Linked DNA regions of Homo sapiens: regions 1, 2, 4 and 5 are each linked to region 3. The links come from fine-mapping of genetic effects on gene expression. A gene starts in region 3. Each other region holds a variant in brackets. All regions are shown on one strand. Distances are from middle to middle.

Region 1 (5,257 bases), 64 kb before region 3:
GAGGTGGAGGTTGCAGTGAGCCGAGATCTCGCTATTGCACTCCAGCCTGGGCAACAAGAGTGAAACTCTGCCTCAAAAAAAAATAAAATAAAATAAAAATAAAAATAAGGAAGTACCTGCAAGAAAGCTACTCAAAGTAGGTCACCAGCCAGGAGCTCTGACCCAGGCTGCCCAGCCTATCCTTGTGTTGTCTTTTTAATTTTCCCTTAGATGGTCTGCCCTTTCCGTGATTTCTGTGTAGAACTCTGTATCTTGAGCTGTGGTACTATTTTTCTTTTGTCTTTTAATTTAAACCTTGGTGGAGCCCTTGTGATGAATATTAAATACATACATTTTGGGCTGGGTGTGGTGCCTCTAGCCTATAATCCCAGCACTTTGGGAGGCCGAGGCAGGCGAATCGTGAGGTCAGGAGATCGAGACCATCCTGCCTAACACGGTGAAACCTCGTCTCTACTAAAAATACAAAAAAATTAGCCGGGCGTGGTGGCGGGTGCCTATAGTCCCAGCTGCTCGGGAGGCTGAGGCAGGAGAATGGCATGAACCCGGGAGGTGGAGCTTGCAGTGAGCTGAGATTGCACCACTGCACTCCAGGCTGGGCACAGAGCAAGACTCCATCTCAAAAAAAAAAAAAAAAAAAAGACAAAAAGAAAACATTTTGGTCATTAAAAAACAAAAAAAAAATGATACGAGAGAGCACCCAGGGATTATAAGAGGAAACACTTTATTACATCACTCATCTAACATTCCAGAAAATGGAAAGTACTCTACTGTACAGCAAAGTAAATCATTGGTTGTCTGGAGAACAGAAAGAAAGCCTTTATAAAAAGGTTCCAAGTAAATATAAAGGTGTTAAGTTCATTATTGTGACTATGTTAATGGTTTCATGGGATTATATGAAACTCAAGATTTATCACATGCTACAGCTTAAATATGCATAGCTTACTGAATGTCATTTATAACTCATCACAGCTTTAAAATATACTTCAGACTGGCAGCAGTGGCTCACACCTGTATTCCCACCACTCTGGGAGGCTGAGGCAGGCATATCACCTGAGGTCAGGAGTCCAAGATCAGCCTGGCCAACATGGCAAAACTCCGTCTCTACTAAAAATACAAAACTTGGCCGGGCATGGTGGCACATGCTTCCAGTCCCACCTACATGGGAGGCTGAGCCAGGAGAATTGCTTGAACCTAGGAGGTAGAGGTTGCAATGAGCCAAGGTCATGCCACTGCACTCCAGCCTGGCTGACAGTGAGACTCTGTCTCAAAAAAAAAAAAAAAAGGTTGGGCACGGTGGCTCATGCCTATAATCCCAGCACTTTGGGAGGCCAAGGCAGGCGGATCACGAGGTCAGGAGATCGAGACCATCCTAGTTAACATGGTGAAACCCCATCTCTAGTAAAGATACAAAAAATTAGCTGGGTATGGTGGCGGGCACCTGTAGTCCCAGCTACTTGGGAGGCTGAGGCAGAAGAATGGTGTGAACCCAGGAGGCAGAGCTTGCAGTGAGCCGAGATCGTGCCACTGCACTCCATCCAGCCTGGGCAACAGAGCAAGACTCCGTCTCAAAATAAATAATAATAATAATTAAAAAAATGCAGTTCAAAAGAAAAATATAGATTTACCATTATTTTTGGAAAACAGGTTTGGCAACTCTATACTGACTACACCAATTCTTCTCATGCCCTAAGTGGGAAAACTAGCCTCCACGGTAGCAAATATTGATGTGGCACTAAGGCCATTTCCACCTGATTAAGTGGCTGGCTGGTCACAAAGGCCACATCACTGAACTGAGATCTCCCTTCTCCCTATCATCTTCCTCCTGTTAATGCAGGAATGACCTTGAGGAGAACAGCCCAGAATGAGTACAGGAATTCACAAAACCTTTAGATTATTTCCTCTGACAATGGCCTCAACAATACAATATTCATCATTATGGAAGTCCTGATAATTCCTGTATCTGCATATTCATCATATACGTAGTGACTGGATCATTGTGGATGCCCTTTTAAAAGACATGCATTACGCTGCACGTGGTGGCTCACCTGTAATCCCAGGACTTTGGGAGGCTGAGGCCAGCAGATCACAAGGTCAGGAGTTCGAGACCAGCCTGGCCAACATGGTGAAACCCCATCTCTACTAAAAATACAAAAATTAGCTGGGTGTGGTGGCATGTGCCTGTAGTCCCAGCTACTCAGGAGGCTGAGGCAGGAGAATCGTTTGAACCTGGGAGGCAGAGGTTGCCGTGAGCCAAGATTATGCCACTGCACTCCAGCCTGGGCAACAGGGTGAGGCTCTGCCTCAAAAAAAAA[G/GA]AAAAAAAAAGAAAAAAAAGACATGAGTTGCAGTTACATTATTCTGTCTCCTCCACTGCCTATAAATAAAGTAATTCTATAAAATTATAATTTCACCTGATAGCATTACAATCTGTGATGTTATCCTACAGAATTCTGGATATCAGGGCATGTGTCTGCATTGCAAGAGCTGGGCAACAGACTTCCCTCAGCCGTACCAAGTACAATGCAATATACCTCGTAAAAGAATTTTGTCTTGTTCAAAAAATGCCAGAAATTGTCACAAAAAATGCCCTGTATCCAGCTGACCTATGAACCCACAAATTTTAGTATCCGTGCTACAGATAAAGACCACAAAGCCCTGAAGGTCTTCTCTGGAGGCCTCTGGCAGCTATGCAAAGCAGTCCACAAGTGGAGAAAGCTACATTCTGCATTCATACTGTTCCATGAGCCACAAAGTTTAGCTATGCCAACAAAAGCTGTGACCCCCTTCATAGTAACAGGACCTACTTATTTCTGAACCACCCATACAGTGACAACAACCCTCAAGATTGAAGAAGGCTGAAACAATAAGGCCTTCATAATAGCACAAACCGGAGAAATGGGAGGCAAGCTGTTCTTAGGATCATGACTTGGAGGGTAGAAAATTTGTCAAGATTGATGTGATACCCACAAGATCTCTGAAAGACATAGTCCGTCTTTTCAAGTCAACGTAAGAGGCCTCTGGGATAAAAATGGGTAACGTCCATGGCATGACTTATCAGACAGAAAAAAATGACAAAGGAAGAAGTGCTGAAGCTACTCAACAAATCCTTCTGTGACTCGATCAGAAATTAAAAGTTAAAAAAAAAAAAAAAAAAGGCCAGGCACAGTAACTCACACCTGTAATCCCAGCATGTTTGGAGGCCAAGGTGGAAGGATCGCTTGAGCCAGGAGTTTAAGACCAGCCTGGGCAACATGGTGAGACCCTGTCTCTCCAAAACTTAAAAAAATTAGTGGAGCATGGTAGTGCATGCCTGTGGTTTCAGCTACTCAGGAGGCCGAGGCAACAGAATCACTTAAGCCCAGATCAAGGGTGCAGTGAAATGTGAACACACCACTGCACGCCATCCTGAGCGACACAGTGACAACCTGTCTCAAAAAAAATCTAGCAAGGTACCTGGGTATAGTGAAAAATGCACTGTAGCTGCCACACACTTGGAACTTTTGCAGATGCTCAATAAATGACATTCAATCTAGGTAGGTGGCACTCTCAAAGGGTTACATTGAAAAAGAAATAACATTCCATATACATCTATGGTGTTTTTCTCATGTCAATGTTTGAGGCTCCAATAAAAAGGCTGAAGGCTTTCTTGCATTCATTACATTCAAAAGGCATTTCTGCAGTGGGAAGTCTCCTGTGTGTTATGAAGCTAGATTTCTACATAAATATCTCACATGTCACACTGGTAAGGCCCTGATCCAGTGTTAACTCTGATCTTGAAGGAGCAAAGAGGTGTGGCTACAAAATTGCCCAAATGTATTTTATTTGTCTAGTGTGAACTCTCTGATATTCAAGGAGAAAAGACCTTCAGGTAACTTTTTTCCCACATTTGCTGCAATCACAAGACCTTACTCCAGTGTGAACTCTCCTGTGTTTAATGAGACTGAAAGTTTCAGCAAAGGATTTCCCACATTCACTGCACTCATAAGGTGGTGTGACCAGTGTGAACTCTCTTATGAACACAGAATGCAGAGCTGTGGGTAGATGACTTCCCACAATCACTGCATTCATATGGCCTTTCTCCAGTGTGAACTCTCTGGTGTGCAATGAGGTGGTCCTTCTTGCTAAAAACTTTCTGACAATCCTCACACTCATATGGCTTTTCTCCAGTGTGAACTCTGGTGTACAAGGAGGTGAGACTTCTTGTTAAATAATTTCCCACATTTCTCACATTTATAAGGCTTTTCTCCAGTGTGAACTCTCTTGTGTTTAGTGAGACTGGAGCTTTCAGCAAAAGATTTTCCACATTCACTGCACTCATAAGGCTTTTCTCCAGTGTGAACTCTTTTGTGTTTTGTGAAACTGGAGCTTTCAGCGAAAGATTTTCCACATTCACTGCACTCATAAGGCTTTTCTCCAGTGTGAATTCGCTTATGAACACAGAATGTAGAGCTGTGGGTAAATGATTTTCCACAATCATTGCATTCATAAGGCCTTTCTCCAGTGTGAACTCTCTGATGTGCAATGAGTTGGTACTTGTTTCTAAAAAATTTCTGACAAGCTTCACAAGCATATGGCTTTTCTCCATTGTGAATTCTCTGGTGTACAAGGAGGTGAGACTTCTTCTTAAATAATTTTCCACATTCCCTACATACATAAGGTCTTTCTCCAGTATGGCCATGCTGGTGTAGAATGAGGTTACCCTTGTGACTAAAACATTTCCCACATTCCCCACACTTAAAAGGTCTTTCTGTAGTGTGAACTCGCTGATGATTCCTAAGGTGTCCTTTTTCATTAAAAGATTTCCCACAGTCTCCACACTTGTAAGGTCTTTCTCCAGTGTGCATGCGCTGATGGTGAACAAGGCTGCGCTTATGACTAAAAGATTTCCCACATTCTCCACACTCATAAGGCCTCTCTCCAGTATGAACGCGCTGATGGCTCCTAAGGTGCCCGATTGAACTAAAAGATTTCCCACATTCTCCACACCCATAAGATCTTTCTCTAGGGTGAACTCGCTGATGTAGAATGAGGGTGCCTTTATGACTAAAAGATTTCCCACACTCTCCACACTCATAAAGTCTGTCCCCAGTGTGAATTTGCTGATGGTTCCTAAGATGTCCTTTTGAACTAAATGATTTCCCACATTCTCCACACTCATAAGGTCTTGCTCCAGTGTGAACTCGCTGGTGTAGAACGAGGTTGCCCTTTTGACTGAAAGATTTCCCACATTCTCCACACTGATAAGGTCTTTCTCCACTGT
Region 2 (6,651 bases), 28 kb after region 3:
TGCCACTGCACTCCAGCCTGGGCAACAGAGCAAGACTCCGCCTCAAAAAAAAAAAAAAAAAAAAGAACTTCTACAAAATCAGTTTTAAATAATCAATTTCATCCTCTTCTCACAAGGACAGCAGAACATGTCTGTGGTGGGCATGGCATGCTGGGAAATTTTACCCTGGGGTAGTGACCTCTATTTTGTGGGTCTGGATCCCATTTTCACGTCAGATGGAGACAGATGGTGCAGGTGAAACATCTGCGTGTCTGTGTTCTGAATGCAGGATAACATCACGGTAATGAGTATGTTTAACGGAAACATGTTTTGTGCTGGGAAAAGTTTGTTTCCTGAACTCTGTTAGATCCGTGGAATTGCCCTGCAAAAGGAACTGAGCAACCCCACAGCTGTTCACCCCTCTGTAAGATTTGATGAGAAAGGTTCATTTCCGTAAGTGTGGCTGTGAATATTTGTCTCTCTTACTTCAAACTCCCTTAACTCCCACTTATCTTTGCCTTTGAAAACCAAGCCACAGGCCAGGCGCGGTGGCTCACGCCTGTAATCCCAGCACTTTGGGAGGCCGAGGCGGGCGGATCACGAGGTCAGGAGATCGAGACCATCCTGGCACCCGAGCGTTGGTGGTATAGTGGTGAGCATAGCTGCCTTCCGAGACCATCCTGGCTAAAATGGTGAAACCCCGTCTCTACTAAAAATACAAAAAATTAGCCGGGCATGGTGGCGGGCGCCTGTACTCCCAGCTACTCGGGAGGCTGAGGCAGGAGAATGGCGTGAATCTGGGAGGCGGAGCTTGCAGTGAGCAGAGATCGCGCCACTGCACTCCAGCCTGGGCTACAGAGTAAGAGTCCGTCTTAAAAAAAAAATGAAAGAAAGAAAGGAAGGAAGAAAGAAAGAAAGGAAAGAAAGAAAGAAAAGAAATGCAAGCCACCGCTGAGAAAGAAAGAAAAGAAACGCAAGCTGCCGCTGCCAGCTTGGCTTTCCTGCGAATAGCTCTTACAGGTCACACTACCTGAGTGGATGAACTTTTCCAGCTCATTTTCGTTCTCTGGAAGTAGGTGCGTGGACTCACCCTCGTCCTCTGAGCCCTCTTCTTCATCTCCTAATAACGGTATCCTGAGGTTCTTATAAAGTGACTCGAGCTGTTGTCTTTCCTCAGCCTGTGCCAGTCGACTGGAGAATGATATAAATGAATTTAGAAGCACAGTTTTCATGATGAATAATTCATTTCTCAACCATGCCACTTTTTGACAGGAAAGGAGTCGCTTGTGGAGTGGGTGCAGACATAAGACTTTGAAACCAGACTAATCATGGTCAGCTCTCAACTGTCTACATGGTCAGGCCATTTCCTGGAGTAAGGAGTAACTCCGATCATCCCAAAGCATGGATCAAAGCCAGGACTAGACGTGAACAAGGCACTCACATTGGGTTCCAAACTTAAGGTGTTGACAAAAAATCCATAATCAAACAAATCATCTTTCTTTCCATTCCTTTCTCTTCTCTTTTTCTTTCTCTTTTTTTTCCTTTTTCTTTCTTCTTTCCTCTCTTTCCTTCCTCCCTCCCTTCTTTTCTTTCCTTTTTCTTTCCCTTTCTCTCTCTCTCTCCCTTTCTCTTTCCCTTTCTCTCTCTGTATCTCTCCCTTTCTCTTTCTCTCTCTCTTTCTCTCTTTGGAACAGGGTCTCATTCTGTCACCCAGGCTAGAAGTGAACTGATACAATCATGGTTCACTGCAGCTGCCAACTCCTGGGTTCAAACAGTCTTACCTGCTCAGCCTCCTAAGTAGCTGGGACCACAGGCTCGTGGCACCATGCCCGGCTAATTATTTTTGTATTTTTTTTTTTAGAAATTGCGTCTTGCTATGTTGCCCAGGATGGTCTCAAACTCCTAGGCTCAAGCTGTCTTTCCTCCTTGGCCTCCCAAAACACTGGAATTACAGGTGTGAGCCACTGTGCCCGGCCATAATCATGTTTCAGTGTAATATTTTACAAAATAAAAATTAATGTCAAGAAATCCGTGATGAACAAAATAGGACAGAATGGGTGTTACTGATTTTTCTACCTCACTGTAGGTCCAATCCTGGAAGTGGATCACTGAACAGCTATTTCTGTTTGGTGTGGAAATGGATGACAGTGTTTTCCTAACATACTTACCTTCCCAGTACTGTGTGAATTATATATTAAAAAAATACTTTTAGGGGCCAGGCGCGGTGGCTCACGCCAGTAATCCCAGCACTTTGGTAGGCCGAGGCGGGCAGATTACCTGAGGTCAGGAGTTGGAGGCCAGCCTGACCAACATGGAGAAACCCCGTCTGTACTAAAAAAATACAAAATTAGCAGGGCGTGGTGGCACATGCTTGTAATCCCAGCTACTTGGGAGGCTGAGGCAGGAGAATCACTTGAACCTGGGAGGCGGAGGTTGCAATGAGCTGAGATGGTGCCATTGCACTCCAGCCTGGCCAACAAGAGTGAAACTCCATCTCAAAAAAAAAAACAAAAAACTTTTAGGGTTAGTTTATTTTTTGTTTTTCTTGCTCAAAAGGCTGGGACAGGAGCAAGATTTGAGTGACAAAAGGGAGGTGCTCGCCTCAGTGCGAAATGTAAGGAGGTACCCCAAACAGTGAAAAATGAAGATGAGTATTTTAACTCAATTTTTTTTTTTTTTTTTGCAGATGGAGTTTCACTCTTTTTGCCCAGGCTGGAGTGCAATGGCGCGATCTTGGCTCACCACAACCTCCACCTCCCAGGTTCAAGTGATTCTCCTGTCTCAGCCTCCCGAGTAGCTGGGATTACAGGCATGTGCCACCATGCCTGGCTAATTTTTTTGTATTTTTAGTACAGATGGGGTTTCTCCATGTTGGTCAGGCTGGTCTCGAACTCCCAACCTCAGGTGACCCGCCCACCTCGGCCTCCCAAAGTGCTGGGATTACAGGCGTGAGCCACCGCGCCCGGTCCTTAACTCAGTATTTTTAAAAATTGAAATGAAGCAAAAAAAACAAAATCCAGGATATACCAAATATCAAGATTGTAAACAGAGATAGGATCCAAACAGTGCTGTGCTAAACCACAGGGGAGCTTGAGTCAAAAGGAAAGGTGTGAGTCCCTATACACGTTTTAATGTATTTTTAAATGCTTATTCTTTTCCAAAACACTTAAGAAGTTCAGAATATATTTAATAATTGAAAACTGGTGTATGAAAAGTCACAACATTAAGTTTAAATATTTTATCTAGGCCAAGCACAGTGGCTCACGCCTGTAATCCCAGCACTTTGGGAGTCCGAGGCGGGCGGATCACGAGGTCAGGAGATTGAGACCATCCTGGGTAACATGGTGAAACCCCGTCTCTAATAAAAATACAAAAAAAAATTAGCCGGGCGTGGTGGCGGGTGCCTGTAGTCCCAGCTACTTGGGAGGCTGAGGCAGGAGAATGGCGTGAACCTGGGAGGCGGGGCTTGCAGTGAGCTGAGATGACGCCACTGCACTCCAGCCTGGGCAACAGAGCAAGACTCCGTCTCTAAAAAAATAAAAATAAAAATAAATATTTTATCTCTACCCTAAACAAAATTAATTGTAATTTTACTTTCCTGGTTTAAATAAAAGCAAACTTACCAATAGTATTTTCAAAATCTACTTCTGGAAAAAATGAACCACTAAAAATTACATAAAACTTGTACTTTTGAACAGGTGGTTTTGTTTTTTTTGTTTGTT[T/C]TCGTTTTGGTTTTGGTTTTGGCCCCAGGCTCCACTATAGCTTAGTGCTAATACAAATGTGAAAACAATAAGAATTGACTAGCTCAGCAACTCAATTCAACACTGAGTGTCCAGGAGATATGTTTTACTGAGTTGCATTACAAAACTTTATATTTATTAATAGTTTTGTTATAATAATGAAATATACAGAAGCTACAGTTACATAATTTTTGTTTTTGAGACATGGTCTCACTCTGTCGCCCAGGAGGAAGTGCAGTGGTGCAATCTCAGCTCACTACAACTTCCACCTCCAGGGCTCAAGCCATCCTCCCACCTCAGCCTCTTGAGTAGCTGGGACTACAGGTGCGTGCTACCACACCTGGCTAATTTTTGTATTTTTTGTATAGACGCGGTTTCACCATGTTGCCCACGCTGGTCTCAAACACCTGAGCTTAAGGGATCCACCCGCCTCGGCCTCCCAAAGTGTTGGGATCACAAGTGTGAGCCAATGCCCCCGGCCTATACATTTACATAAATTAAGCGGATGTAGTGGAGATAACCCACAACCAAGCACGCAGGTTACGCTCTCATTAGCAAAATTCCCCTTTTACCTTTAATGTCACTTTGCCTTCATGTGACCTACTCCAAGGTGGTCTTAACATAGCTGCCTCAGAAAATATCTCACACATGGCAATATATCTTGTTTTCACACTTAATTCAACGAAGCAAGCAATTTTGTACTTCTCAAGCTGTTTCTGGTGGGATACAATGGAATCCTAGCACGGAATCATACAGTAGGAGTCAGAATCTGTTGGTTTGGTCAGAACCGCATGAGATCACAGTGTGTCTCACCTTTTTCTACCGTGAATTTCAAAATGATTACATCACTCAAAACAGCTTGACCCCAAGCTTTATTTGCGAAGACGGTGATGTAACTTCCCCCAAAGCTGCTATCACCCCAGACTGCACTGACACATTTCTAGTGAAAGGGAGAGTGGTCGCTCTTTTCTGCTGTGCACTATTGAGATTCCTTCCAGAGTAGCAAGTTCTTTTTATTTTATTTATTTATTTATTTATTTATTTATTATTTGCGACAGAGTTTTGCTCTTGTCGCCCAGGCTGAATTGCAATGGCGTGATCTCTGCCCACTGCAACCTCTGCCTCCCAGGTTCAAGCAATTTTCCTGCCCCAGCCTCCCAAGTAGCTGGGATTACAGGTGCCCACCACTACGCCCAGCTAATTTTTGTATTTTTAGCAGAGACGGGGTTTCACTATATTGGCCAGGCTAGTCTTGAACTCCTGACCTCAGGTGATGTACCCGCCTCAGCCTCCCAGAGTGCTGGGATTACAGGCATGAGCCACCACACCCGGCCTCAAGTTTATTTTAAAATACCAAATTCTGGGGTCTGGGAATGGTGGCTCACACCTTTAATCCCAGCACTGGGAGGCCAAGGTAGGCGGATCACCTGAGGTCTGGAGTTCGAGACCAGCCTGACCAACATGGAGAAACCCCATCACTACTAAAAATACAAAATTAGCCTGGCATGGTGGCGTATGCCTGCAGTAATCCCAGCTACTTGGGAGGCTGAGGCAGGAGAATTGCTTGAACCCAGGAGGCAGAGGTTGCAGTGAACCAAGATCCATACCATTACACTCTAGCCTGGGCAACAAGAGCGAAACTCCGTCCCCTCCCCTCCAAAAAAAGTAGAAAAAATAAAATAAAATAAAATACTGAATTTTGGGAGGATGCTAGCATCTCAAACTGTGTCTTTCAAGCATTTTTGATCATGACTCCCAGTAAGAAATATATTTTATTTCACAACCGTGTGTCTGTGTGTGTGTGCATGTCTCACATGTATCTGAAAAGTTTAAAAATCAGCCTTTTACATTAATACTTTAAGTAATATTTTCTTTTCTTTTTCTTTTTTTTTTTTTCAGACGAGTCTCACTCTGTCACTCAGGCTGGAGTGCAGTGGCACGATCTCGGCTCACTGCAAGCTCCGCCTCCCGGGTTCACACCATTCTCCTGCCTCAGCCTCCCGAGGAGCCGGGACTACAGGCACCCGCCACCACGCCCGGCTAATTTTTTGTATTTTTAGTAGATACGGGGTTTCACCGTGTTAGCCAGGATGGTCTCGATCTCCTGACCTCATGATCCACCCGCCTCGGCCTTCCAAAGTGCTGGGATTACAAGCGTGAGCCACCATGCCCGGCGTAATATTTTCTAATATTTTCTATTCTGCTGAATTGTATTCTGTCCTGTGTCTTTCTTTCTTTTTTTTTCATGTGTATCATGCCTCAACATGAGTACAATCCACATGTTGAAAAACACTAATCTGGAAATTTATAATGACCAATACTTTAGCAATTATAAGATGTATCATCATCATCCTTTGACATTAAATAATAATCAGTTGACTTGTTATGTCTCATTTAAGGACAGCAGATATTACTTAGCAGATACTTACTATATCATATAGGAGATTGCCATCCCACATATCAGGGCAATGCTGAAGGCTACGCTCGAAATTAAAATTACTTTAACAAGAGCAGGTCTATGCCGAATTATTGCTAAAAAGAAAGAAAAGAAAAGAAGTGCTCAAAAATGTTCATTTTAGCTATGTCTTTCAGTTAATATATTTGTCCTTACAGAGGGGAATGGAAGTCAAAACCAGAAACACTTTCAAAAATAGCTTGTTTTGTTTTTTTTTGTTTTGTTTTCTTTTTTGACACTGAGTCTCGCTCTATCACCCAGGCTGGAGTGCAGTGCATGATCACAGCTCACCGCAACTTTCGCCTCCCGGGTCCGAGCAATTCTCCTGCCTCAGCCTCCCAAGTAGCTGGCACTACAGGCATGCGCCACCACACCTGCCTAATTTTTTTGTGTTTTTGTAGAGATGGGATTTTGCCACGTTGCTCAGGCTAGGACTCTTAATTTTAGAAAATACTGAAGTTAGATTTTCAGTGAGCC
Region 3 (6,651 bases):
TGTTAGGCCAGGATACATTATCCAATAGAACAGAGTGGGAAGGGGATTTGTGCTCAGGCCATTTGAGGTCATACAGTATCACCACACACCAACGTTGCACATCACATTGGCCTTTCATTTTCGGCCTTATGCCACAATGTGGCTGACAGAATTCAGAGTATGCTTGGCAAATTCAAACAGGATCCAATATTACCACAGAATTCTCATGGCTCCCAATAGCAATGCAGTCCCAAGTCATTCTATGAAGGCCTTCTTGCATGGCTCCACATCCCCACAGAACCAGGTGGGGCTTTAGATATCCATGGCCCTATTCCACTTCTGTGTTGCACTTGGTGACCCCTCTACAATGACGACTTTCCTCTGTCCACCTAGAGTCATTTAAATCCCACTCCCTTGTTATGGAGAATGGTCTAAGAAAAGTGGAAAACAAAAGAAAAAAATAAATAAAATCCCAGCCCATCAGCTGTCCACCCCAGGCCCAATGTCTGTCACAGATAACCAAATTTACCCTGAGCATGTATCCACCAGGCCGAATGAAAACCCCCAAGCACCAACAAAGTTTTCTCAAAATCTTGGTGAGTCCACAGAGTGGTGAATAAGTACCAGCCTTGGCCCAAGTGTCATCTTCCTTCAATTATTTCTATGCTTCTGCTTACATCTCTTATCTATTCTACCCTTGGAAAGCCTATGCCCCCTGACAAACCATGTTGTCTGACATACCCTATCTTCATGAGCCCTTGCCTCCTTCTCCTGTGGCAATGTCAGCCAGGGACCCAAGCAAGAAATTCAGCCCTCAGCCTGCAACCACCCCTTCCTGGCCCCCACAAAAGATTTACCATGAAAATTTGAAGTGTGTCAATGTCATAATGGAGGCTAAACTATCTCAGACTCTTAACATGGTCAAAACAACATTCTTCACATCCCCAATGAATATTATACCTACTATGTGCTCATCTCAGTTGATGCAGCTTCCATCACTGCAGATGCTAAGACCAAAAACCTGGTGGTCATACCTGATTCCCCTTTCATGCCCTCACAGTCTATTAGAAAATCTAGTTACCGACCGGGCTTGGTGGCTCACGCCTGTAATCCCAGCACTTTGGGAGGCCGAGACGGGTAGATCACGAGGTCAGGAGATCAAGACCATCTGGCTAACACGGTGAAACCCCATCTCTACTAAAAATATTAAAAATTAGCCGGGCATGGCCGGGCTTGGTGGCTCATGCCTGTAATCCCAGCACTTTGGGAGGCCGAGGCCGATGGATCACGAGGTCAGGAGATTGAGACTATCCTGGCTAACACAGTGAAACCGTCTCTACTAAAAAATCCAAAAAATTAGCTGAGCATGGTGACGGGCGCCTGTAGTCCCAGCTACTCGGGAGGTTGAGGCAGGAGAATGGCGTGAACCCGGGAGGCAGAGCTTGCAATGAGCCAAGATCGTGCCACTGCACTCCAGCCTGGGCGATAGAGCGAGACTCCCGCTCAAAAAAAAAAGGAAAATCTAGTTGCCATTTTACAAACTGTGAATCTTGAATCCAGCCACAGCTCCTTACTCATTAATATGGTCCAGTAACCCTCACCTGCATTATGGCAGGAGTTTAAACTCTGATCCTCCTTCCTCCTCCCTCAAACACAGTGTGTTCTCTTCTTTGCAGCCAGATGATGCCTGCAGACAAATGGGACTGTGGTAACATCACCTCCTCGCCGCCCTCTTGCCTCCCCACCGAATTTTTACCTCTAAGCATTTCATGACCTGGTACCAACTCTGTAGTTAACCTTCAAAGTATGTTTACATGGGTTGACAGAAATGGGAATACCTCCATACATCCTGTGTCATGGACTTAGGATTCTGGGTTTAGGGTTTCTCCAGTGTTCTCAGATCAAAGGACTGAAAAAATGGCAAGTAAGAGTCCCAGGACATCACAAGCTAGAGAACATGTGAATGGGGAATAAGGCCAGTGAGGGAATGGAACACCCTCTAATTCCCTCTGTGGGTTCCTTTTTTTGAGCCAGAGTTTCGCTCTTGTTGCCCAGGCCGGAGTGCAATGGCTCACCGCAACCTCTGCCTCCCGAGTTCAAGCAATTCTCCTGCCTTAGCCTCTGAGTAGCTGGGATTACAGTCATGCGGCATCACCACGCCTGGCTAATTTTGTATTTTTGTTAGAGACGGGGTTTCTCCATGTTGGTCAGGCTGGTCTCGAACTCCCGACCTCAGGTGATCCGCCCGCCTCGGCCTCCCAAAGTGCTGGGATTACAGGTGGGAGCCACCTTGCCCGACCCCCTCAGTGGGTTCTTTACGTGCTTTTGTAGCCAGGAGTGTCTGAGGGGAAAGCAGACGTTACAAAGGGGATCTGATAAGCTCAGGTCTCCTTGAACCTTTTCTTATCGCTGGAGCCAGGTGACCTCAGACTGGTTGACCTGCGTGTCTCAGTGCAAAATGTCATCTCTACCACCTATGTGATCTATCAACAAAGGAGTCAACCTCCCAGAACCCTAAGGTCCTCATCTCCTCTACTATGTTCTTCCTTTGGCCTTTGGGAAACCTTAAAAGCCTGGACTTGGATCGCATCCCTCCTTTCTTCGAAACTCTCCATGGCTTCTAGCGTCTTCACAGCGAATACACAGCCCCCAGCCTGCTCTTCCAGGAGAAGCTTCGCCTCACACGTTGTTCCCTACAGGCGCCTGTGGACCCCAGGTTCCATCCTCCCGGGTCTGTCCTCCAGGCCATAGCCCGCGCCGGTCCCTGTGCCTGTCGCTCTCCCCACCGCATCCCACAGGTGTCAGAAACAAGGACCTCTCCCGCGAACGCCTCAGTGTCCCGACGCCGGGTCCGGGCTGCAGACCTGTGAACAGTCGCCGCTCTCTCGCTGCTTCAGGATTCGGGTTAGGATGAGGTGACCTGAGGGCAGGGAAGGCACAATTACCTGAGCCGGGAGCCTCAGCGCGGCCGCCGCCATCCCGAGTACGCGGGGAAAGCACTGCCGGGAGCGGCGGGCGCCGTTACGGGGCCTAAGATCTGCCTCTGTGCAGCAAGAAGGACTCTTCACCTTCTGGGTTCAGACACCGCGGTTCGGACCCATAGCTCCAGCGCCTCTCACCTCACAAACCGCAGAAACACACCCAACATTAACCAAAATGGTCGCTACCAGAGAACGCTGAGAATCCCGCCACTACGTTACGTGCGCACACAGAAACGCCTTTATTCTGAGCCCTTACTGGTTCTGTTGCGCTGTCATTCAATGTAGAGCTTTCTGGGTAATGTAGTTCCCCAGGTTCCAAGGTAGTAAAGCTGCCGCTTCCCAAAGGCGCTTCTGCAGGGAAGTCCCAGCCCTACCTCAGGGGGTTCATTAAAGCGCGTACCCTTTTAGGGCAGAGGATGGTCTCGCCCCTCCTTAGAGGCCATATTGAGATTCCTGGGGAATCCCTGTTTGTAACTGACCACCTAAGTGTTTGCAAAAATATTAATTCACATTTCTGTAAATTCAAGCTCCCAGGCGCTAAAAATACTGTGAAGGCCCCCAAAGGCTACAAATCCAAATTCGTGTATCACTTTATACAATCGTTTAGACACAGAATGCTTGCACTGGAAGCAGAGGCTGATAAACATTACTCTGTTATAATTCACATGAATGCACTCTTGTTACCGGATAGAATGTCTTGGCTGTGAGTTGTCCAGTTGTTGGCGCATTGAACAAAGAAGTGAACAAAACACACAAAAAAAGCAACGAAAGAACGGACCAATGAAAGCGCAGATTTATTGAGGGGAAAGTACACTCCACAGAAGTGGAATGTAGGTGTGGGAGCAGGCGACCAAGCGGCTCAAGAACCCCGATTACAATGTTTTTTAGGGTTTTATTAGGTTGGTGCAAAAGTAATTGCGGTTTTTGCCATGAATAAGCTAGAATTTTATAATACCCCAAGAGTTCTTTAAAGGCCTCCAATCCTATGAAGGACTGGTGCACAACCAATCAGAGGCTGAAGTGGAGACTTCTGTCTTGTTACCACAGGAGTGAGGACGTGGCCTGTGTGCTGCCTCATCTTGCCTAGAACTAGCTGCACCTGCTGTTCTTTTGCTTATGCCTTCATTCTTGGTTACCCTAATTCCCTATTCTCCTGCCTCACTCTGAGGCATTAGAGTTGGTTTTTCAGTCTGCCAGGGACAAAAGAGAACTAATCCAGATAGGACCATGCCAAGGAAGATAGAGGAGAGGCTAAAGAAAGAGTACAAAGGTCAATCAGTCGTTCCCATGGAAAAACAACTCTCCTGCTTATATAGTCAATTATTGTGTCCAATTCATTCAGCAAAACATTTATTCATGTAATATCCCTTACTTGGTATTCTAACTTATATTTTCAACTCATTTTAGGAACTTGAAGTCAGTCTCAGGTAAAGAACAATGAAAGAGAAATCTCAGCTTGGTATTGGTAATGGTGGTGATAATCTCCACCTGGAGACACTAGGCGTATGTTAAATTATCGAGCTTGTTATCTTTCCTGGGAAGTGATTATCATTTGTTTCTCTTGTGACAGCGGGGAGTGTTCTGCATGAGGAACTAATATGATACCAGAAAAACAGGTGAAATGCCAGTTACAGAAACTTATTACCAACGACTATCTAATAACTGCGATGACAGAAATAGGTCAATTGAAACATGAGTGGATGGTGAAAAAAATTTACACTTCACAGAAGTTTTTCTTTCTTTTTTTTTTTTTTTTTTTTTGAGACAAAGTCTCGTTCTGTCCCAGACTGGAGTGCAGTGGCGCCATCTTGGCTCACTGCAACCTCCACCTCCCGGGTTCAAGCGATTCTCCTGCCTCAGTCTCCCAAGTAGCTGGGATAACAGATGCCTGCCACCACGCCCAGCTAATTTTTGTATTTTTAGTAGAGACAAGGTTTCACCATGTTGGCCAGACTGGTCTCAAACTCTTGACCTCTGACCTGCCTGCCTCCTTCTCCCACAATGCTGACATTACAGGCATAAGTCACTGCTCCCAGCTGACTTTACAGGTGTTTGTTTGTTTGTTTGTTTGTTTTGAGAAGGAGTTTCACTCTTGTTGTCCAGGCTGGAGTACAATGGCACAGTTTCAGCTCACTGCAACCTCCTCCTCCTGGGTCAAGCAATTCATTCTCCTGCCTCAGCCTCCCAAGTAGCTGGGATTACAGGTGCCTGCCACCACACTCAGCTAATTTTTGTATTTTCAGTAGACACAAGGTTTCACCATTTTGGCCAGGCTGGCCGCAAACTCCTCACCTCAGGTGATCCACCCGAGGTGGCCTCCCAAAGTGCTGGGACTACAGGTGTGAGCCACCTCGCCCGGCCCAGAAGTTTTAACAGTGATGTCTACGAAGAGATGGAATTAAGGTCAGCATGTGATTAAAAATGTCCCCCTTGTTGGTTTTGTCATTGAGATTTTTTTTTCTTTATTAAAAACATTGAACAATACCAAGGTGGAGAAAAATTGTGCCTGTTCACCTACCTACTTGGGAGGCTTAGAGGGAGGATCACTTCTGCAAAGGAGTTTGAGGCCAGCCTGGGCAGCAGAGCAAGACTCTGTCTCCAAATAAATAATTTAATGAATAAGTAAAAACAGAAGGTGAAATCTGCAGTATAGTATTATCCTCATAGAATTGTGTCTCCCTTTCTTCATTATTCTGTGTGTCAATTATGTTACAAGTTTTTCATCTTATAGGAAAAAAGTCATAGATTCTATACACATCTGTACTTTTTCTCACTTAGCAATATGGTTTGAACAATGAAAAGCTTCTTTTTCACTTCACATTTGAAATCTGCTTATCTCCACATTCTATTTTTTTCTCCCCTTTTTGAGACAGCGTCTCACTCTGTTGCCAAGGCTGAAGCGCAGTGGCATGATCAAGGCTCAACTGCAGTCTCAACCTCTCAGGCTCAAGTGATCCTCCCATCTCAGCATTCAGGAGTAATTGGGACTATAGGCATGCACCACCACAACCAGCTAATTTTTGAGAGATGTGGTTTTGCCATGTTGCCCAGGCTGGTATCAAACTCCTGAGTTCAAGCAATCCTCCTGCCTCGGCCTCCCTAAGTGCTGGCATTATAGGATTCGGCCACTACACCTGGCCTATTCATCTTTTTCTGATGTAGAACCCACTCAGTGACAGTGTAATCAAGAATCAAGAAAGAGGCCAGATGCAGTGGCCATGCCTGCAATCCCAGCACTTTGGGAGCCTAAGGTGGGCAGATCACTTGAGGTCAGGAGTTTGAGACCAGCCTAGCCAACATGGCAAAAACCCGTCTCTACTAAAAATACAAAAATTAGGTGGGTGTGGTGGCGCACATCTGTAATCCCAGCTACTCGGGAGGCTGAGGCAGGAGAATTGCTTGAACCCGGGAGGCAGAGGTTGCAGTGAGCTGAAATCGTGCCACTGCACTCCAGCGTGGACAACAGAGCAACTCCGTCTCAAAAAAAAATAGAGCCAGAATACAATACACAAGCAACTGAAGTATTTCAACAGCAAAGAAACCCTCAAACAATCCAATTTAAAAATGTCAAACGATCTGAATAGGCATTTTTCAAAAGACAACATACAAACGGTCAAAAATATATTAAAACACACTCATCACTATCTGGGAAATGCAAATCAAAACCGCAATGAGGTATCACTCTCCCCGT
Region 4 (6,651 bases), 240 kb after region 3:
TGGGATTACAGGCGCCTGCCACCATGCCTGGCTAACTTTTGTATTTTTAGTAGAGACGGGTTTTCACTATCTTGGCCAGGCTAGTCTTGAACTTCTGACCTTGTGATCCACCCGCCTCAGCCTCCCAAAGTGCTGGGATTACAGGCATGAGCCACTGTGCCCAGCCAACTTTTGTATTTTTAGTAGAGACGGGGTTTCATCATGTTGGCCAGGCTGGTCTCAAACTCCTGGCTTCAGGTGATCTGCCTGCCTCGGCCTCCCAAAGTGCTGGGATTACAAGCATGAGCCACTGCGCCCGGCCTGCTGGCATGTTTTGACTTGTGACTGCACAGCTCCAGTCTCTGCCTCCACGGTCACATCACCTTCTCCTTTTCTGCCTATGTGTGGTCACATCTGTCCCTGCCTCCCTCTTGTAAAGATACATGTGATTACATGCACAATCCAGGATCATCTCCCCTCTCAAGATCTTTAAATACATATGCAGCCCCTGTCTCTACATAACGCAACATTCATAGGTTCCAAGAATTCAGGCCTGACATCTTTGGGGGACATTTTTCAGCCAAACACACTCTCCTAACTTTTAATCAAAGTCCTGGGCTTCACTCTCCGTCCATGTTCATTGCTTTGACACTTGTCATGGACAGGAGGGTGCCTTGCACTGACTGGCTTGGACCAGAGTGCTTGCATGCCCCTGGATTAATCACTGCAGCAACGGAGACAGAATGAGGCCAGTGGGCCATCCACTGGAGCTGAGATTGAGGGGCAGCTTCACCCATAGCTGCCCAAAAGGGTATCTGGGGTGTTCTGAGGGTGTTCTGGGGTGTATCTGAGGAAAGGGATGAGTGGAAAGGTCTCACAAATGAATCTTTTTTTTTCTTTTTTTTTGAGATGGCGTTTCACTCTTTTTTGATGGGCATTGCCCAGGCTAGAGTGCAATGGCGCGATCTCAGCTCACCACAACCTCTGCCTCCCGGGTTCAAGTGATTCTCCTGCTCAGCCTCTCCAGTAGCTGGGATTACAGTCATGTGCCACCACGCCTGGCTAATTTTGTATTTTTAGTAGAGATGGGGTTTCTCCACGTTGGTCAGGCTGGTCTGAAACTCCCGACCTCAGGTGATTTGCCCACCTCAGCCTCCAAAAGTGCTGGGATTACAGACGTGAGCCACCGCGCAGCCTCACGTGAAAAAGACTTTTCTCTCAATTTCACAATCTGTCTCTCTGTCTCTCTCTCTCTGTCACGTTTTGAAATTCTGGCTTCCCTCCTATACCCAAGGGAGAGCTCACACTTCTCCCTTACCTGAGCGAAATGCCATCTTTCCCTTCCAGCACCCCATTCAATCCTCCACCAGGGTCCCCATGTCCTGGTAGCTGCTCCCTGGATGTTGGGACTTCACTCAGTTCCATTTTTTTTTTTTTTTAGGAGACAGGGTCTCACTCTGTTGCCCAGGCTGGAGTGCAGTGGCCTGATCATAACTCACTGCAGCCTTAATCTCCCGGGCTCGAGAAATCCTCGCACCTAAGACTCCTGAGTAGTTGGGATTACAGGCACATGTCACCATGCCCAGCTAATTTTTAAATTTTTTTGGTAGAGATGGAGTCTCACTATGTTGCCCAGGCTGGTCTTTAACTCCTGGCCTCAAGTGATCCTCCTGCCTCAGCCTCCTAAAGTGCTGGGATTGCAGGCATGAGCTGTTGACCCTCAGTTCCAGATCTTTGCTGGCAGCAAGTCCGGAAACTTCCATCCGGATCTGGTTTGTGGCCTTATAACTTAATGTGAGGAGAGGTCTCTGGGGTAGATGGGCTCCACCCAAGCAGACTTTTGTGCCAGCTACTGTGGCTGTGCCACCCACCTTCATTGCAGCACAGTCTGGCGCCTTCTACAGATGCCAAAAAAACCAGTTACACTCTTTTCCAGCTTTTCTCCCAGCCAGGACATGGATGCATGTGTCAATCCTGGCTAACAGGGTCAGAGCGAGTCAACAACAGAGAAGTCTTCCGAAAATGTTGTATTACTTTTTTTTTTTTTTTTTTTTTGAGACAAAGTCTCACTCTGTTGCCCAGGCTGGAGTGCAGTGTCGCGATCTCGGCTCACTGCAACCTCCATCTCCCAGGTTCAAGCGATTCTTCTGCCTCAGCCTCCTGTGTAGCTCGGACTACAGGCGCGCACCACCACACCCGGCTAATTTTTTGTATTTTTAGTAGAGAAGGGGTTTCACCGTGTTGACCAGGCTGTTCTCGAATGCCTGACCTCGTGATCTGCCCGCCTCAGCCTCCCAAAGTGCTGGGATTACAGGCGTGAGCCACTGCGTCCGGCCAAAATGTTGTATTACTTCTTTGTGGTAGGGAGAGTAATGCCCCCTTTCCTTCAGAGATGTCCTCATTCCAAACCCTGGAACCTATACATATGTTACCTTCGCATGGCAAAGGGGACATTGAAGATGCCATTAAGGATCTGTTTTTGTTTTAGAGACAGGGTCTCACTCTGTCACCCAGGCTGGAGTGCAGTGGTGTGATCATGGCTCACTGTAGCCTGGAACTCCTGGGCTCAAGCGATCCTCCTGCCTCAGCTTCCTGAGTAGCTGGGACCACAGATGCATGCCACCACACCCAGCTATTTTTGTTGTTGTTAAGACACGGTCTTGCTCTGTTGCCCAGACCAGTCTCAAACTCCTTGGCTCAAGCAATCTTCCTGCCTCAGCCTCCCGAAGTGTTGGGATTACAGGTATGAGCCACCATGCCTGGCCAGATTCTTGAGATGGGGAGATTATTCTGAATTACTTGGGGCGGGCCCTATTTAATCAAATGTCTTTGTATAACTTGAGGCAGGAATCAGAGTAGATGATGTGATGATGGAATGAGAGATTTGAAAATGCTACACTGCTGGCTTTAAAATTGGAGGAAGGGGCCATAAGCCAAGGAAGGCAGGTAGTCTCTAGAAACTGGAAAAGGCAAAGAAATGGATTCTCTCCTAGACCCCCCAGAAGGACCACAGTCCTGCTGACATCTTTATTTTAGCCTAGTAAGACCCATTTTGGACTTCTGACCTCCAGAGCTGTGAGACAATAAATTTGTTGTTGTTTTAAGACACAAAGTTTTGGTAATTTGCTACAGTGGCAATAGAAAGCAAATACACTTCCTGATGCCA[A/G]CTTCTTCAGCCAAATGTTGCACGGCTAAATGCTAGACTTGGAACTGTAATCACCATCTTAGGACTGCAAAGACGTGTGCCTCAGAAAGAACCAAGGCCATACACTGGGGAGGGCTGAGCCAAAGGAGGGACAGTGACTGGTTACAGCTCATACTTGAGCCCAGGGGTCAACCGTAGAAGCCCTTACATCTGGATTTAATTACATTTTTTATTTTGTAATTTTTAGTTTTATTTGTGCTGAGACAGAGTCTCTGGAGTGTAGTGGTGCGACTACAGCCTCAACTTCCCAGGCTCAGGCGAACCTCCCACCTCAGCCTCCCGAGTACCTGGATTACAGGTGTACACCACCACACGCAACTAGTGTTTTGTTTTCGTAGGGATGGAATCTCACACAAAAAACTGGGCAAGTATGTTCCCCAGGCTGGTTTTGAACTCCTGGGCTCAAGCAGTCCTCCCACCTTGGTCTCACAGTGTTGGGATTACAGGCATGAGCCACTGTGCCCAGCCTGGACTTAATGAAAAACAAACAAACAAACATTTTTTTTGAGTCAGTCTTGCTTTCTCACCCAGGCTGGAGTGCAGTGGTGTAATCTCAGCTCACTACAACCTCTGCCTCCTGGGTTCAATTAATTCTTATGCCTCAGCCTCCCAAGAAGCTGGGATTACAGGCATGCATCATCACACCTGGCTAATTTTTGTATTTTTAGTAGAGAAAGGTTTTTACCATATCAGCCAGGCTGGTCTTGAACTCCTGACCTCAAGCAGTCCACCCACCTCAGCCTCCCAAAGTGCTGGGATTACAGATGTGAGCCACTGTGCCCAGTCAGTGAAATTTAAGATCATGAATGGTGGCATACTGTCACTTCTGCCAAAACTACACCTTACATGATAACCCTTTCTTGCTCCCCACCAGCTTTTGCTCTCAAGTCTCGTTTGGTCATGCTAAGCCACAGTTTGGGGACTCCTAGGAGCAGCCATCACAGGTAACCAGTTCTGCTGGCTCAGGATGGCCCCTGCTGCCCTGACTCAGAGACACTTCCTGCAAGGCAGACATCTCATGCAGAGCAGAGGCCACTGCAGTCAGAAGGAAGGGCCTGGTAGCCTCAGAGGCACAGCCAAGGGGCTGCAACGATGGAAAGGAGATATTCCACAAGTCCAAGAGTGTGACATGGAAGCACACTCTGGGATGTGGTGGACTCAAGTGATCCATGCAGATGTGGATGCTGTCTCTCTTTCTCTGTTCATAGAGTGTGGCATGGGTCCTCTCTGGGTGAAAATAGGTGCCCAGAATTAATCACACACTTCCATTCAAAATAAACTGTGCCAACTTGCTGAACCACAAAATGATTTCCTCGCCATGGCCCCTAAATAACTCCGTGATAAGAACTGTATGCTATTGATGGCTCTGAAGTCCAAATTTATTGGCAAAAGCAAAGAACATGCCTGAACTAGTCATTTCTGCAGGCGTTTCTCCTTAAGATGAGTTTGAAGCCAATTGGTTATGTGAAGAATAGCAATCAGTTCTTTCTCACACTGGAGGAGGAGGAAGCACAAAAGAAAGTTCAAGGGTCAAGCCTCCCAAAAGGCTCTGTTATAATCCTATGTGCTCTTTCATTGTATCTAGTGATGAATTTGGGTAACTGACACTTTACTCATTGGCCATCTATCCTTGAACTTGATAAGCATTTTCATTTATGTAAGTTTACTTGTAATTCTTCCAAAACTTATCTTCACATTTCCCAACAAACTAATTTCAGACATTTTGTTTTTATGATTCTATTGTGACAGGAACCTCCATTTCAATATACTTGTTGCAGGTATAGATTTTGTGCATTGCTTTGTGGTGTTGATTTGTCCATCTTTTGTATTCTGCCTAGCTTATTGTAATCTTGATTTTTAAAGTTTTCAATTGGGTTTTTAAAGTATGTTAATGTTAATAAATGCATTTTTAGGTTTCCTTTCCCAATCATTACAGCACTCAGGTCTATTTCATATCAGATTGATTGATTTATTAAGACAAGGTCAAGCTCTGTCGCCCAGGCTGGAGTGCAGTGGCATAATCAGGGCTCACTGCAGCTTCAACTTCCTTAGCTCATGATCCTCCTACTTCAGCCTCTTGTGTAGCTAAGACTACAGGAGTGTGTCACCACATCCAGCTACATTTTTTGCTTTAATACAGATGAGGTTTTGCTACGTTGCTCAGGCTGGTCTTGAACTCCTGAGCTCAAGTGACCCTCCCGCCTTGGCCTCCCAAAGTGCTGGGATTATAGGTATGAGCCTGGCCTCATACTTTATTTGTAGTAACAAGAATATCTGGAAAATGTTCAGCATTGCTGAGAGCAGATTTCTGTCATTTTCGATGTGTGTATCCTCCACGGTTATTGAATGGAGGAATAAACAAGAAAAAGACTCAAGAAGAGAGACAGGAGTCAGTTCTCATCAGAGAAGAAAAGGTCGATTTCCTAAGGCAGGAAATATTGAGATGGGTTGTGTTCAGGACTAGCAGGAGGTGTGTGGCTGGCTTGTTCCTTGTCTACATCCTAATGGCCTAAAGAAAAGATGCCCCACACTAAGGACAGCAAGAGGGAAAGAGTGAGCCTCATCCTCCGTGACTTCAGTGGGCAGCTTAACCAGCACCAGAAAAGACCTATACTTGCAGATTTTCTTTGTGGGAAAACGGCGTTGGTTATTTGGGTTTTTATTTATTTCCAACCAAACATGCCTTAACGGATACAGGGTGCAAAGGCATGTACTAGATTATTCCAAACCTGCCTCACTGGTTTGTCCGGCATTCTGTGGACTTCCTGCATTCCTCTTTGAGGCAGGCCGTTTTCTGGAGGTTGTTTGTGATCGGCCTCTGCTCAGAGCCCAAATTCTTAGCCTTTCCCCCATGTGTTATGTCCAGTGTGGATTATCTTGATGGTGAGTTTACCTTTGATGTTGGGGAAAACAGGCAAAGAATGAATGAGCAGCAGTAACCAAAGAGCCTCTTTTCTGGGAAAAAAGCTATGATATTAATAATTTATAGTTCAAATGCACATTAATTTATCCATACTTCTGTAACCTTACATTCCCAAGCTCTCAGAAGTTCAGAGAGGTGTCCTCAAAGCTCACATTTCAAAGATGGAAAGACACATCTTTCTTCTTTTTAAAAATGATTTTAAAATGTATCCCCCTTTACATGGAACAATTTGAGATGCTCTGTGTGATGAAACAGAGACAGAGAATGATGAGTGGAGATCAAATCCTGGGTCCATGATTCAGTTGCACAGCTGGCTTAGGACTCAGTTGAACACCACTAGCTGCCATAATGGTCCAGCTGCCATAATGGTTTGGGCCAACTTATAGCTTTACATATTTTATTCTTAGTCATATGTTGTTTATTTATTATTTATTTATTCATTTATTTATTTTGAGATGGAGTCTCGCTGTGTCACCCAGGCTGGAAGGCAGTGGCACAAACTCGGCTCACTGAAAGCTCCACCTCCTGGGATCATGCCATTCTC
Region 5 (6,651 bases), 28 kb before region 3:
CATGTTCACTGAGATGCTGGACACTGCAGGTATCTGTCCCTGGGACAGCAGGGACCTCTGAAGCTTCTTTGTGGCCTGGTTTATACTTTTTTCCATCTTGTGGTTTTTCTAATGGACTTTCACGGATTTTGTAATCTCGTAACTTTCCAAGCTCCATCACTTCCTAAATCTTAAGAACTGTAATTGACAGTTTAAATTGAAGGTGCTGTTTGTAGACTTAATACCCAATGAAAGCCCAGGCATCGCCGGGAGTGGTGGCCCACGCCTGTAATCCCAGCACTTTGGGAGGCCAAGGCGGGCGGATCACCTGAGGTCGAGCGTTCCTGACTAGCTTGATCAACATGGAGAAACCTCGTCTCTACTAAAAATACAAAATTAGCCAGGTGTGATTGTGCATGCCTATAATCCTAGCTACTCGGGAGGCTGAGGCAGAACTGCTTGAACTCAGGGGGCAGAAGTTGTGGTGAGCCAAGATTGTGCCATTGCACTCCAGCCTGGGCAACAAGAGTGAAACTCCGTCTCAAAAAAAAAAAAAAAAAAAAAAGCCCAGCCATCATGAAGAATCCTCGAATGTTCTCTGAAGAAAATGATGCTGGGGGCTGGGTGCAGTGGCTCATGCCTATAATCCCAGCACTTTGGGAGGCCGAGGCATGTGGATCACCTGAGGTCAGGAGTTCAAGTCCAGCCTGACCAACAGGGTGAAACCCTGTCACTACTAAAAATATAAAAAAGTAGCCAGGTGTGGTGGCGGGTGCCTGTAATCCCAGCTACTCTGGAGGTTGAGGCAGGAGAATCATTGGAACCTGGGAGGCGGAGGTTGCAGTAAGCCAAGATTTCACCATTGCACTCCAGCCTGGGCAGTAAGAGTGAAACTGCGTCTCACACTTGATCTTAGCCAAAAGGCTGAGAAGCACTGAACCAAAGCCACTGCGCCCGGCTGGGAAAGTTCTTCTTTACAGATTTATAGTTCTTCTTTATAGATTCTTTCTTGCTAAGTGTTGAAAAGATAACTATAATCATCTAAAGAGGATTAATTCATCACTTAGGCAAAGTAGAGGTTAGCAAGAGGAAGTTACTTCTCTTAGAGTATGTGATTCAAAGGAAAAAATTGCTACATCAAATACACACCGACTGGCTAAACATTTCTAGGTACGTATCAATTTCTATGCCACTTTCAGATTCAACACAATGAGGAAATTACTGGTGTAATAAAAATAACAAACATTAGATTGATGAAGCACGGTAAAATAATTTCAAACAGGAAAGATGTATGAATCTTTTGTACAAAAAAATTTCAACATATAAGTTGCATACAAGCAGGAAGATTTAACTTCATAAGAGAATTAACAAAAGTTGTATTAATTCAAGACAAGAGCCTGCAGAGACTAAAATTGCTTAGTACTGAAAGTTTTGCCTATATAAACTGTAGTTTATGAAGAAAAAAGTTTTGTTTTTTTTGAGGCAGGGCCTTGCTCTTTTGCCCAGGCTAGAGTGCAGTGGTACCATCTCAGCTGATTGCAACCTCCATTTCCGAGGAAGGCTCCTTAATTTCCCAATTATAAAGGTTTTGTGGGAACATAATTGGGTGTAATAAAATAAAAATTTACACCACAAGAGACAGACACATACTCTTCAGGGTGTATGGTCATAATTTGTTTGAACGAGCCCTTTTAAACTTCTAGATATCATTGAAACTCCTATGTTGATTAAAAATCATCAAAGATCTTTCCAGTGAGAAGGATGAAAAATATTACTGAGAATGAAGTATCACTATTTCATGTATGTGCCTGTATGTGCTTATATAACATGCTGTAATACAAGGTGACATTTAGGGGCTGAGACTGTTAACATCTGACTGTACCTTGCTATTTGTAACTTACAATCTTATTCACATTTCTCAAGTGCCATGCCTTTAGGTGCCTATACATCATGCTATCATAGGATTTCTAGGGATAAGCCGAGTGCCGTGGCAGATGCCTGTAATCCCAGCACTTTAGGAGGCTGAGGGGGGTGGATCATGAGGTCACAAGTTTGAGACCAGCCTGGCTAACGTAGTGAAAGCCCATCTCTACTAAAAATACAAAAATTAGGTGGGCGTGGTGGAGGGAACCTATAGGCCCAGCTACTTGGGAGGCTGAGGCAAGAGAATCACTTGAACCTGGGAGGCGGAGGTTGCAGTGAGCCGAGACCATGCCATTGCACTTCAGCCTGGGTGACAGAGTGAGACTCTGTCTCAAAAAAAAAAAAAAAAAAAAATTTAGGGATAATATCTAAGCCCATATAACCTGCTGTTATAAAAGGTAACATTTAGGGATTGAGATTTTTTTTTTTTTTTTTTTTTTTTTTTGAGACGGAGTCTCGCTCTGTCACCAGGCTGGAGTGCAGTGGTGCAATCTCGGCTCACTGCAACCTATGCCTCCCAGGTTTAACGAATTCTCCTGCCTCAGCCTCCCAAGCAGCTGGGACTACAGGCACCCACCACTATGCTTGGGTAATTTTTGTATTTTTAGTAGAGACAGGGTTTCACCATATTGTCCAGGGTGGTCTTGAACTCCTGACCTTGTAAGCCACCCACCTCAGCCTCCCAAAGTGCTGGGATTACAGGCCTGAGCCAAAACACCCAGCTGAGATTCTTCATATAGCTGATTATCTTGCCATTTCTAACTTACAAGCTTTATCCACATTTCTTAACCTTTTGTTTCACTAAATGGGACAGGAAGTTTTAACTCTTGTATCCATGAAGCATCTTAGTAAAATAACAGATATTCCATTTGCAAATTATGCTCCCCAAAAAACACAAACACATATGTAAAAAATGTTATAAAGACATTAAGTGTCCACTCAATAACTTTGATTCAAACTATCTTCATGTTCTTCACTTCACAAGATAAAGCTCTTAAAATGGACTTTGTGAGGTTCCATGTGTTTGGTCAGTCATGAGAGGAAGAATAATTCAGAGTGAGAGGAAACAAGAGAGATTCTAGGCAGCCCTCAGGGAAGCTGAGGAGGTGGCTCCCTGCCTCCGGGTCCCTCAGAATGTCCCATCTCCCTGTCAGTATCAGTGTCCCAGATAATCTTCTTCTGACTGGGACATTTCCCAATTTGGGAACAGTGGTTACTTGCCAAATTCACATTTACGGCCAAAACTGTGGCTACAGTGTCGACATTCATGCAAGTGGGGAAATGGGCATGTGGCCCCTGAAAAAAGATTCTGGATTCCATAATCTCACCTTGCTGGCAAGAAACTACCATTTCAGCAGAAAGTGCAATGACAGTGTCTGCACAG[G/A]GACTGGAGATTATCTCCAGAAAAGAGCTTGGAGTGAGGAAATTAGTTAATGTGGATGAATGACGTTACCCATGGAGAATGAAGTAAGTAGCTAGAAGACAAAAGCCTCAGAACACATAAATCTCAACGGGTACTGAGTAGAGGACTCGGAGCTCTGAGGTAATTGGAGCTCATGGCTATCCCAGAACTTGGATAACATAAAGTTCTTGTTTCTACAAAGTGTGTATCCTTTCCATATGTGAGAACTCTGAGGAAATACAAACTTGGAACAAAAGAAATAGTAAGGTAATCTTAGAAAGATGTTGAATAGAAAGCAAGCTACGGTGACATCTTAACTGTTTCACTGCCCAGCAATCTATACGTATTGTCACTTGGGGACACTTATGATTCCACATGAAGTGGATAACCAGCTCATAGCTCTTGTGGTACTGAAAACCAAGTATTTGGCCGGGCATGGTGTGGTGTACTCGTAATCTCAGCTCCTTGGGAGGCTGAGGTAGGAGAATCACTTGAACCTGGGAGGCCCAAGTTGCAGTGAGCCAAGATTGCACCACTGCACTCCAGCCTGGGTGACAGAATGAGACTCCGTTCCAATGCGAAGTCTCTTAAGACCAAGGAGAGCAGACATTCTGATGTTTCCCAGATTGACAGCACTCATAAGGCCTTTCTCCAGTATGAACTCTCCTGTGTTTAATGAGACGGGATGTTTCAGCAAACGATTTCCCATATTCACTGCACTCATAAGGCCTTTCTCCTGTGTGAACTCTGATGATGAAGGAGGGTAGAGCTTCGCTGAAATGTTTTTCCACATTTGGTACATTCATAAGGCCTTTCTCCAGTGTGAATTCTCCTGTGTTTAATGAGACTGGAACATTCAGCAAAGGATTTTCCACATTCACTGCACTTATAAGGCTTTTGTCCAGAATGAACTCTTTTATGAACATGAAGCGCAGAGCTGGAAAGAAATGATTTCCCACATTCATTGCATTCATACGGCCTTTCTCCAGTGTGAATCCTCTGATGTATAGTCACGCAGTTCTTATTACCAAATAATTTCCCACATACCTCACACGCATATGGCCTTTCTCCAGTGTGAACTCTCTCATGAACGAGAAGATGATACTTCCTGTTAAATAATTTCCCACATTCCCTACAATTGTAAGGTCTTTCCCCAGTGTGAAGTCTCTGGTGTTCAGTGAGGTGGGATCTGTACCTAAATGATTTCCCACATTCCTTGCACTCATAGGGCCTTTCTCCAGTATGACCTCGCTGATGTTGAACGAGGTTGCCCTTTTGACCAAAAGATTTTCCACATTCTCCACACTTGTAAGGCCTTTCTCCAGTGTGAACACGCTGATGGTTAATAAAGCAGAACTTCTGACGAAAAGATTTCCCACATTCCCCACAGTGATAAGCTCTCTCTCCAGTGTGACCTTGCTGATGTTGAATGAGGTTACCCTTTTGACCAAAAGATTTCCCATATTCTCTACACTCATAAGGCCTTTCTCCAGTGTGAACACGCTGATGGCTAATAAGGCTGCCCTTCTGACTAAAAGATTTCCCGCACTCCTCACAGGGATAAGCTGTCTTTCCAGTGTGGACTCGCTGATGTTGAATAAGGCTGCTCTTTCGACTATAAGATTTCCCACACTCTCCACAATCATAAGGTCCTTTTGCAGTGTGATCTCGCTGATGATTACTGAAGCTGACATATCTGCTAAAGGATTTTCCACAATCACTGCACACATAACATCCATCTCTAGTGAAAAGTTTCTGGTGTGGAATAACTGAGTGTTTGGTGCTGAAGGCTTTTGTGCGTTTTCCACAACTGTAATTAGTTTTTCCCTCCTGAAAGGGTGGGCCATGCATAGTTTCACTGTCTGTCTTCTCTACAGCAGCTGCTTCTTGGCACAATCCTGAACTGGGCAGAACGTCCTTCCCAAACTCGCGGAAGACAAATGGCTCCTGTGACACCCTGAGCTTACGTTTCTTTACAAACGATGCTTCTCTGACACTCTTTCTGTAGAATTTCTCTCCAATATGCTGCTTCTGGTGCTGATGAAGGTATGCAGTGTCATCCAAGTTTTTTCCACATGCTCCACTCCTGTTCAGCTTCTGCTTGTGATGAGTTTCCTGGTGGTCAGCAAAGTGAAAAACATCCTCCAAGATGAGGCCACACATTTCACAGGGGTGAGCCTTCTTAGGAGAAACACCTGCCCTAGGAGTCCTGCTCTGAGACTCTCTTTGTACAGAAATTCTCTGCTTACAAGGTGCCTCCTCATCTTTTGATCCACACCAACAACCTGAGAGCAAGAAAATGCTGGTCAAGTGCAAAGTACCTCTGACGGGAAGGCACAGCCCACCCACAAGTACGTCTCACAAATTGAGGAATTAATCTATAGAAATATTTGCAGGAACACAATGTTGGCTTCAAGTTGAAGATGGGGCTGCTGGCCGGGCGCAGTGGCTCACGCCTGTAATCCCAGCACTTTGGGAGGCTGAGGCGGGTGGATCACCTGAGGTCAGAAGTTCGAGACCAGCGTGACCAACATGGTGAAAACCCATCTCTACTAAAAATACAAAAATTAGCTGGATGTGGTGGTGAGCGCCTGTAATCCCAGCCACTCGGGAGGCTGAGGCAGGAGAATCATTTGAACCCGGGAGGTGGAGGTTTGCATTGAGCCATGATCGCACCACTGCACTGCAGCCTGGATAACAGAGCGAGACTCCATCTCAAAATAATAATAATAATAATAAAAAGAAGAATGAGCTGCCTAGCATTACTGGGCTATAAAGGTCACAGAATCCAGGAGGCCTCATGATGTAAAGAGCACAAGCATACAGGCAACACAGGGAGTAGAGGCAGGGTCCACAGCTCCTTCCTCTAAACACAAGTTGTGTACGGGACCTTATCTCCTAATGACATGTGAGTGCTATGTAGAAGCATATGGACTGGGCGCGGTGGCTCATGCCTGTAATCCCAGCACTTTGCAAGGGTGAGGCAAGTGGATAACCTGAGTTCAGTAGTTGGAGACGAGCCTGGCTAACACGGTGAAACCCTGTGTCTACTAAAAAAAGAAAAAATTAGCTAGGTGTGGTGGTGCAGGCCTGTAATCCCAGCTACTTGGGCGGCTGAGGCAGGAAAATCACTTCAACCTGGGAAGCAGAGGTTGCAATGAGCCAAGATTGTGCCATTGCACTCCAGCTTGGGCAACAAGAGCGAAACTCCATCTCAAAAAATATAAATATAGAAGCATATGTCAAGACCAAGAAAACATGAGTACAACACAGCAGAGGGTGGTCATGGATGGTTTAACATAGGGCATACACTTCCTAATATGTAATCGATACACCAATATCAGAGA

Evidence for each region. PIP is the estimated chance that this variant, and not a neighbour inherited with it, causes the effect. A credible set is the group of variants that fine-mapping cannot tell apart.
Region 1: its variant is the best candidate, but not a certain one, in a credible set for the expression of ZNF418 in whole blood (TOPMed, PIP 0.70).
Region 2: its variant is the best candidate, but not a certain one, in a credible set for the expression of ZNF418 in whole blood (TOPMed, PIP 0.89).
Region 4: its variant is the best candidate, but not a certain one, in a credible set for the expression of ZNF418 in whole blood (INTERVAL, PIP 0.73).
Region 5: its variant is the best candidate, but not a certain one, in a credible set for the expression of ZNF418 in whole blood (INTERVAL, PIP 0.60).

The regions. Positions count from the first base shown.
Region 1 is chr19:57,868,677-57,873,933 of GRCh38, forward strand. It overlaps ZNF814 (zinc finger protein 814), which reads right to left. Exons shown (of 3, transcript NM_001144989.2): 3 at 705-5,257. The coding sequence ends at 4,146. It also overlaps the pseudogene UBE2CP5. Among named protein-coding and RNA genes, the nearest start is that of ZNF814, 18 kb to the right of the region's middle. The variant G/GA (reference allele first, on the strand shown) is at 2,313.
Region 2 is chr19:57,960,382-57,967,032 of GRCh38, forward strand. It overlaps C19orf18 (chromosome 19 open reading frame 18), which reads right to left. Exons shown (of 6, transcript NM_152474.5): 4 at 6,149-6,251; 5 at 1,010-1,170. Among named protein-coding and RNA genes, the nearest start is that of C19orf18, 11 kb to the right of the region's middle. The variant T/C (reference allele first, on the strand shown) is at 3,702.
Region 3 is chr19:57,932,237-57,938,887 of GRCh38, forward strand. ZNF418 (zinc finger protein 418) reads right to left here and starts at 3,166. Exons shown (of 6, transcript NM_133460.3): 1 at 2,925-3,166; 2 at 1,581-1,666. The coding sequence starts at 1,586. RefSeq lists enhancers at 2,569-3,451, 3,044-3,133.
Region 4 is chr19:58,172,479-58,179,129 of GRCh38, forward strand. It overlaps LOC124904784 (a long non-coding RNA gene), which reads left to right. Exons shown (of 2, transcript XR_007067360.1): 2 at 4,059-5,111. Among named protein-coding and RNA genes, the nearest start is that of ZNF274, 7.3 kb to the right of the region's middle. The variant A/G (reference allele first, on the strand shown) is at 3,146.
Region 5 is chr19:57,904,526-57,911,176 of GRCh38, forward strand. ZNF417 (zinc finger protein 417) reads right to left here. Exons shown (of 3, transcript NM_152475.3): 3 at 1,249-5,589. The coding sequence ends at 4,025. It also overlaps a transcript of ZNF814 not described here. Among named protein-coding and RNA genes, the nearest start is that of ZNF417, 8.7 kb to the right of the region's middle. The variant G/A (reference allele first, on the strand shown) is at 3,287.